2 separate regions of the Homo sapiens genome follow, and region 2 is linked to region 1. Evidence: fine-mapped expression QTL. A gene starts in region 1. The other region holds a variant in brackets. All regions are shown on one strand. Distances are between the middles of the regions. Region 1 holds the start of ANKRD10 (ankyrin repeat domain 10). Region 2 overlaps ANKRD10 (ankyrin repeat domain 10).

Region 1 (4,389 bases):
CTATCTCATCCTGTGACTTAGAATGCCTTAACTATCTGGGAATGCAGCCCAATAGGTCTCAGCCTCATCTTACCCAGCCCCATTTAAGATGGAGTAGTTCTAGTTGGAATGCATCTGACAATTATCAGAGTTGAGCAAAATCTGGGTGACCAACCAATTAGATCACTGGCATTGGGAATAGTCAGTAGACACCATCCTATCCACAATCCTCCTGCCACAGTTACAGGATCTGTCTTGGGGATCCATCACCACGTATATATGTCAGTCTACTCCTGTACAGCTAAATAAATATGTATATAGTCTAAATAATCCTTTAAAAAACCCAGTCATCTGAAGTGAGGAAAGACGTACACGAAGTACCCTATCACTATAACCTATTTTATCTTCCTAGCCCTTAATACTCTATGCAAAATAAATTCCAAAGTTAAAAAAAATCTAACAGTGGGTTGGAACCTAGGTCTGGATATTATTCTAAGCTCTGCCACAGGCATGCAGTTTGCCCTTGGACAAATTCCTTGACTTACCACCATCTCTGTTTCACCATTCCCAGAATGCAGCCTAGCAAGTAATCCCTCCCTTTCATTACATGGAGGACAAGATACACTCACGTCCTTTCGCAAAATGGGACACCTCTCTCCTAAGAAAGATGGAAATCAGGGGGATATATTTTAAAGAGATTAGATTAAAATCAACATGGCATGTGAGAAGAAAAATGATTACGTTCTAGAGTAAACAAAACCTGAAATGAGTTTATAGTCTATTCTCACCCTTTTGGTCCAAACAAAAAAGTATTGCTTGATTATTCTTTCCTGCTTCACTAACAGATTACAAACTCCCTGGGAGAAGATAGATTCTATGTGTCATATTTTCCATTCATTAGCAATTGCTCACTGAATTGAAATATTTGCTACTTCCCCACTATAGAGTGTTTCTCAATGTGTTTCATTCAGCATTGTACTCAACAAATGTTTGCTGTATGAAGACATGTCTGTGTTGAGTGTTTACACCACTAGTTAACAACTTCCCTTTGTTAAATCTTAGGTTTCTATTTTTTCGTTTTATTAACCAATGCTGCAATATGCTTTCTCGTGCATCAGTACTTCCCTAGACATCTAATTGCCTTGTTCAATTTGTGACGTAGAATTTTGCAAAAAGGAAGTTTACACAGCGAAAAACTATATATACAAATGAAATAAAATACATGATTTAAAAAGACCGCATATTTAGAAGCAAAGGAAATATTCATAAACATTGTGGTTATTCCTCAATAGTGAAATTACTGATGCTTTCATAATCAGAATAAAATTACATATGTAATAAAGTCCGTGATACTGTCATTCAAAATAGGGGATTTGGTACTCCCTTACATTTATACAGTTCTCAACAAAAAGCCTTTTATTGTTTGCTCTGTCTGGTCTTCTCGCTTATCTCTTAAACTTGCAAACGTATAGTCCTAGCCCACCGCACTCGGTTCCGAAGAAGGCGTCCCTCGGACAAAACCGAGGAATCTGTCCTGCTCTGTAAGGAACTAGGGCTTGCTGATTCCCAGATTTTAACGAGAATCCCTGCTCCCCGTAGGCGCTCCATAAATTTTTACTGGACAACTTCACCGCGCGCTACTGGGCCTCCGGGAGACCCGTGACTCCCACCCGCTCTGGGCGCGGGCCCGCAGAGCCTCAACCCGCGCCCCCGGCAGCCGGGATTCCCCGCCCGGACCGGCTCCCAGGCTGGAAACATCATGGTCCGCACCCGGGGCGCAGCCGAGACCCACCGCGCCGGAGGCCCCGGGACCCGCTCAGACCGCTGCTTGGCCACTCTACGCCCCTGAGCCCCCCACACAGCCAGCCCCGTGACCTCCGAGCCCCGTGACCTCCGAGCCCCGTGACCTCCAAGCCCCGGAAGCCGCTGTAGGCAGCGGCCCAGCCAGGCCCCGCCCCCTCCACCGGAGCTCCACGCGTCAATTCCAGCCAGGCCCCGCCCCCGGCCGCCCCAGGCGTGGACCCAAGCCAGGCCCCGCCCTCTGCCTGGCTACTCCAGGCGCCCACCGCCCCAGGCGTCCTCTAGCCCAAGCCCAATGCCCGGCTGCTCCAGACGTCGACAGCCCCATGCCCCGCCTCCTAATCGGCTGCTGCTGGCGTCCTCTGGTCCAGGCTCCGCTCCCTACCCGGCTGCTCCAGGCATCCTCTAGGCTAGACCCCGCCACCTACCGGCCGCTCCAGGCGTCCGCAGCTCCAAGCCCCGCCCTCCGCCCGGCTGCTCCAGGCGGCCTCCGGCTCAAGCCCCGCCCCCTGCCCGGCGGCTCCAGAGGTCCGCGGCTCCAGGCCCCGACCCCTGCCCGGCTGCACAAGGCGTCCTCTGGGCCAGGCCCCGCCCCCAGCCCGGCCGCTCCAGGCCCCGCCCCGCCCCCTCTGTGCGCGCTCCGCTCGGCAGCCTGTGGGACGCGACCGCGGCGCTAGTCTCGTTCCTTTGTGCTGCGGCGGCGGCTTCTCGAGTCCTCCCCGACGCGTCCTCTAGGCCAGCGAGCCCCGCGCTCTCCGGTGACGGACCATGTCGGCGGCGGGAGCGGGCGCGGGCGTAGAGGCGGGCTTCTCCAGCGAGGAGCTGCTCTCGCTCCGTTTCCCGCTGCACCGCGCCTGCCGCGACGGGGACCTGGCCACGCTCTGCTCGCTGCTGCAGCAGACACCCCACGCCCACCTGGCCTCTGAGGACTCCTTCTATGGCTGGACGCCCGTGCACTGGGCCGCGCATTTCGGCAAGGTGGGTGCGAACGCTTTAAGGCGCCATTTTCCCCGGCTGTCCAGTGGGAGTCGGGGAAAGCGGGTCTGAGGTGCGGGGGACGTGGGGCGTGCCGGGATCGCGGGGCGGAAGCGGGATCGACGGCGCCTGTGCCCCGAGGGGCCTAGGGCGCCTGTGCGGCAGCGCTCGCGGCCCGGAGTCGCGGCGGGGCAGCCGGGGGGCGCGGGGCGGAAGCGAGGTCGGTGGCGCCTGCGTCCGGAGGGGCCTAGGGCGCATGTGCGGCGGCGCGCGTAGCAAGTTTCTAACAAGGCGGGCTCCAAGGGTCCCGGCGCCTGTTGGCCGGATCCTGTGCGAGCGCGCGCGCGCGCGGATGGTGCGGGGCCCTCCAGGCCGGGCCGGAGGCGCGAGCGATTTCGCAGAGCCGGGTATTAGGCCGCGAAGTCGCCCAGGCGGCTTCCGGGGAGCCGAGCTGGGGTCAGAGGCGCGCGGGGAATGCCCGGGCGCGGTCGACCTTCTGGTTCCGCACAGCCTCGCCAGTAGCCGAGGGCCGCGCTGCGGACGAGCTCAGCCGAGGAGCAAGCGCCCCGGCGGGACTGGAAGGCCCCGGCAGCTGTGTGGGATGGAGGCCGGCTCTCCAGCTTCTGGGTTTGCTTTAAGGCTTGTAGCTGGCCCCGCTTCAGCAAAATTAGTGACGGCTGTGTTTATCTTGGATCTAAATTACTGCAGAAGTGGTTAAATTAAGCAGAATTCTCTTCCCGTGGAGGCTTTACGTTCCCCTCTTTTTTCTTAAACTGAAAATTCTGGGGGAACACAGTGCTGCTTTAAGGTTTTAAAAGGTTGGATAGCTACCGTTTCCTCATCTGTGAAGTCGTTGGGGTACTTGCTCTCAGAAATCTTAAATAAGATTTCACCGTGCATTTCAGAAGTGACTGGTTTTAATTAATATTTCTTAATTCACTGAAATTCAGGGATGTGTATAGTGTTTTTCTCGTAAGTGATGAGATGGGGTTAAATGGTTTTGCAGAAATATGTGAGAGGTAATGTGAAATAAGTTACTTTAAGAAGGCCTGGCCCTGGTAATGTCGTTACCAGCTGATGAAGTTGCGGTTTACCTTGCTGCCCCTGGTGCTACATTCACAAAGCAGCTGTGTCTTTTGGAAAGCAGTTTCTGATTCTTTTAAAGTGGAAAAGTCACTTTTCTTTCAATAAAAGAAATGAAAAGGAGTTTTGACGATCGGGGTGGGACAAGCAAGTTAATCAGTCCTCAAGGGCTGTTAGGTTCCTGTGGCACTGTCTCTGAAGTTGTGCAACCGTAGTACCTGCTGGAGAAAACAGGTGCCCAGGGGAAATGAGTTTCTTAACAAACAAAAGTAATAAAGCCTCCTCCCTGCGCTTCTGCGTGCAGCCTTAAATAGATTTCCCGAGGCAGTCAGTAATCTGAGGATTTCCTCCCTCCAGAGTGTCTCTTGCTGTGGTTTATTTTTACACTAAACTTTAGGATTCTGTCCTTTCTACCCTGGTTGAGAACGACACAATACTGGGTGATAGTCAGTGAACAACGATCTGTAGAATGCTTAAAGCCTCATTACAGATGGTCACTTAGAAAATTTAATCCAGTGGTGCCTCCACTTGTCTCTGGGGATTAAAATAGTT
Region 2 (4,389 bases), 23 kb after region 1:
AAGGCCTTGATTTCATCATGCTTTTGCTGTGGATGTAGTGTAGCTTGCTGAACAGGTATGGAAGCTGTCTTTGCTGTTAAGTACTTCTCCCGTTTGTTTATCAACCTGCAGCTAACAGGATGTCTGCTTTTTTACAGGTTTATTTCACAGAGCAGTGTACATTCTTGTCTTCCAGGGGAACTTCAACATGGAGTTACTTTTGATCCCTCAGTTTTAATTCAGTGTCTAAAGGTTTACAAGTTCAACTTACTCTATTTTATTCAGCTCTTTCACTTACTCTGCCATCACTTCCTACTTGAATCTGAGTTTTAGCTACTGTAGAGGTCTCAGACCTTTCCTTTTTAGTACTATTAGCCAGGTAAAACTTTGGTTCTTGTGAGTGGTAGGGATGAGTTTTTAGGACAGTATTCAAAGCCTTTTTAAAGGAACCAACTACTCAAATGCTCTACAATGCCAAAAATACAATACTCCTGCAGGTTTTCCCAAGCAAGGCCAAAACAATCAAAATCTGACAGAAAAACACAGCTGTTCAGCTCTGGAATCTGATGATAGGCTACTTTTTAATGTCAGGACATCCTTCTAAACTTCCACTTACAGTGTCACATGTAAGCATGAAGGCTGGCTCGTTGGTGAGCCATTGCTTTGTTTTTAGGAAGACAGTTATGAATGCCATGGACAATCTCAGTACATGTTGTTTGTTATGATTTTATTCACGCTAAAGGAATGGGTATTAAAATTAAGTGCATATAATATAGAATTCAGTTTCAAGTCTGAAGTTAGCGTAAATTTAGATTCTTCAGACTAACATAAAACATGATTTTGAGAAGTTAAATAGGAAGATGCCTTTTTTAGAAGTTTAGCATATTTAGTTTATCTCCCAAATCTTGCTTAGAAATCAAATGTATATAAGAGAAGTTAGTTACAGAGCTAGATTGATTAACTACTTCTTTAATGAAGATTTGCTATGAATTTGTTTACTCTTTCATACCACCTTCAGATAGCTAGTCAGTTCAGCAGGAGCAGAGACCAGGTTAGCACGCGGATGGGGTGTAATTCAGTGTTTTTGTGTTGTACAGCCTGAGAAATGCCAGTGGCCTGACAGCAGCAGACATTGCACAAACCCAGGGTTTCCAAGAGTGTGCCCAGTTTCTCTTGAACCTCCAGAATTGTCATCTGAACCATTTCTATAACAATGGCATCTTAAATGGGGGTCATCAGAATGTATTTCCTAATCATATTAGTGTGGGAACAAATCGAAAGAGATGCTTGGAAGACTCAGAAGACTTTGGAGTAAAGAAAGCTAGAACTGAAGGTGAGACCGCTTTGCGGGTGGGAAGAGCACACTTATTTTTCCTTTCTGTAATATGTTTTCTTTTTATGGCTGAGCGCACCTTCGAGATGAGACCTTCACTTCAGGTGGTAATGCGCCTGGTGGATTGTGCGGTGACGGTGGAGATTTCTCCTGTACTGCCACTGCGAAGATGGGACTTAACAAAAGGGAATGTGAGGGAAATACTGATGGCCCAAGTGTAAATGTCTATGTGGAACTTTTTGAGCACCCATGTTTACCTGCCATGAATTAGATTTTTTAATTTGTTGTATCTGTTTGAAATATATCTATTAAAGAAAATCTGCCACTGTGCCTGAATTTTTTTTTTTTTTTAATTTGCTTCTTGTAAATGTTCCTGGGCTTATAAAAATTGCTGATGGTCTGGCAGTAAAACATTTTCACATTCGGGAAGGTGAATGTTTTCTGTACTATTTCTGTACTATGATTTGACCTCAGTGGTCTCTGTACCTCACATGTGTGTTGACTTATCACAGCAAGATCTGGTGTATAATTT[G/C]ATCTTGAGGATTTAAGTCCCTAAGGTAAGTTATTTTCGTTGTAAGTATTCTCCCACCATTTTTTTTTTTTTTTTTTTTGCTCTGTCACCCAGGCTGGAGTGCAATGCTGTGATCTCGGCTCACTGCAACCTCCGGCTCCCAAGTTAAAGCAATTCTCCTGTCTCAGCCTCCCAAGTAGCTGGGATTACAGGTGCATGCTATCACACTGGGCTAATTTGTATTTTTAGTAGAGAAGGGGCTTCACCATGTTGGCCAGGCTGGTCTTGAACTCCTGGCCTCCAGTAAGCCACCTGCCTCGGCCTCCCAAAGTGCTGGGATTACAGGCATGAGCCACTGTGCCTAGCCGTTTTTTGGGTTTTTTGTTTTTTGTTTTTAAGGTAGGTTTGAGTTTGCAAATAAGCAGTCAGCCAGTCACTCTTGAAGTTGAAAACATCTCCCTTTCCTATAGGAAAATCATCTATATCTATATATAAGATGTCTTAGGCCAGTTGTCATGGCTCATACCTGTAATCCCAGCACTTTGGGAGGCTGAGGCAGGAGGATTACTTGAGCTCAGGAGTTCGAGACCAGCCTGGGCAACATAGTGAGACCTTGTCTCTATTTAAAAAAAAAAAAAAAAAAAAGTCTTAATAAGAAGGTAAATGTGATAGCTTGGCAGGCATATTTAGTGAACTTAGGGGGAGAGGTGGGAGTGTGAAGTAATGAAGCAGATTATGAGCTCAGATTTGCTGAGTATAAGCACAAAGTTTTGCCCGTTGGTTTAAAAAAATCAACCGTGCAAGTTACAGCATAAGGAAAACTGAGTGACTATCAGTTAATCACTTAAAAATCTAGAGATTTTGGTTAAATTTCATGAACCAACATCATCTTTTCTACCTTATTTAATGAGTGTGTCCAAGTGAAACATTTTTTCCCTATAAAGTTGATAAAATGTCAGTATTATGTACTTCACAACTATATCTTGTCACCATAAAAATTCCTGTGATAAGACTTTTTATAGTAATGTATGAACTTAACAGTTTTATCAAATTCAAGATTTTTATGAGTTAAGCATTTCTGGAAAGATGCTAAAATCATAAGCATGACATGAAGATCTGCATAAAATTCAAAATGGTCTTTTTTAATGGTGATGTATTCAGCATTGTCATTTATTTGTACCATGTTTTAATATATTTTTTCTAATGTAGTTTCAACGCCTTTTTAAGAGCATCCACTTTTTAAAAAAATCCTTTGTCATTTCCTTTAATTAAAGCCTGGTTAGTATTGTAGAGTGGCCTCATGCCCTCATGCACGAATTGTACATGTCTGTCCCTGTATGTCACTGTATAGTCTAAATGTCCTTGAAAAATGATTTATGCTTCATTTTCTCTTATTGCTGATAAATCTTAAATTCTGTTTAGTATTTTTAAAAAGAGATCACTTAACATGCTAATTGGACTCAAAATGCACCTAGAAGAGTTCGTAAAACTAGTCTCAGAGTTTCTAAGGTCAGTTGAATTGGCCAATACCACATTGCTTAATTACCCTGAAAAGCATTTCTGAGGATTCCTTGTTTCCTAATCCTCGTTAACTACATAAATTTGGTTTAAAGAGTCCTGCTGACTTTGGGGGTTTTATTTTCTTCCTTTAGAAGGAGGATTTGTTTTGGTTGACCAGTGATTAGAAGTTCACATTTTGCACATTAAACTCACCATGCAGCCTTCCCAAACTATACATTCCTGGTCCCAAGCCCGAGGGTGCTAATTTAGACAAAAATATGGTTGGAGCCGGCACTTCTGCTTAAGTGTTGCAGGTAATACGTAGACCTAACAGGTTGAGCCACTGTTGCAGGTACACAGTACATGACTGATGTTTCTGTGATTATCACAGTTGAAATATTTCAGCCAAGATGCACATTACTTCAAAGCTGCTCATCCTTGGTTTTCCTAATTTGTATACTGACCATGACTTTACTAATTTCCTGGAACTTCTGATGGTTCTGTCTTTTATGTAGTTGACAGTCCTTAGATTTGCCACACTCGTCACAAGAGTGTGTTTATATTTTTTTGTGTCTGTGTGAGCATAGATGGGCATCTTTAGCTCACCTGCACTCCCACCACTCGTTTCCCTATGGGAAAAGGTGATTTTTTGCCCCCCTTTTACCATTACATACTGAGAGTGCTGATGTCGGGTATTGGGAGTCATTCTTGGTCATTAAAACAGGATTTTTTTTTCTGCCAATTACCTGAATGTTCTACATGAAATTGTTCTTGGTTTCAATAGATATATAATTATTTCCATATTAACTGACCAGTTTTTTAGTTTTGAATTAAAGATATGTTGCTTTAGTTTTCGTTGTAATTTCTGGCATCTTGTTTTGATTTTGTTTAAATGTGTGTTTTAAGTTTTGCTTAATCTGAATTATTTTATTAGGTTTTTGGTTCTCATGCCAGAGTAAAAGAAATGATAAATTCTTTTTTCCTCATTTAACACATGTATATAAAATACTTTGAGTAACTTCACATATAAAAATATTTAGAAGAGTTTAAGCTGGGTTTTTTGTTT

What was found. PIP is the estimated chance that this variant, and not a neighbour inherited with it, causes the effect.
Region 2: its variant is fine-mapped to the expression of ANKRD10 in whole blood (INTERVAL, PIP 0.90).

What each region holds. Positions count from the first base shown.
Region 1 is chr13:110,913,093-110,917,481 of GRCh38, reverse strand. It overlaps ANKRD10 (ankyrin repeat domain 10), which reads left to right and starts at 2,413. Exons shown (of 6, transcript NM_017664.4): 1 at 2,413-2,757. The coding sequence starts at 2,548. RefSeq lists silencers at 1,572-1,731, 1,862-2,521, 2,792-3,161 and enhancers at 1,099-1,773, 3,272-3,401, 3,125-3,801.
Region 2 is chr13:110,889,951-110,894,339 of GRCh38, reverse strand. It overlaps ANKRD10 (ankyrin repeat domain 10), which reads left to right. Exons shown (of 6, transcript NM_017664.4): 4 at 1,077-1,312. Among named protein-coding and RNA genes, the nearest start is that of PRECSIT, 22 kb to the right of the region's middle. The variant G/C (reference allele first, on the strand shown) is at 1,845.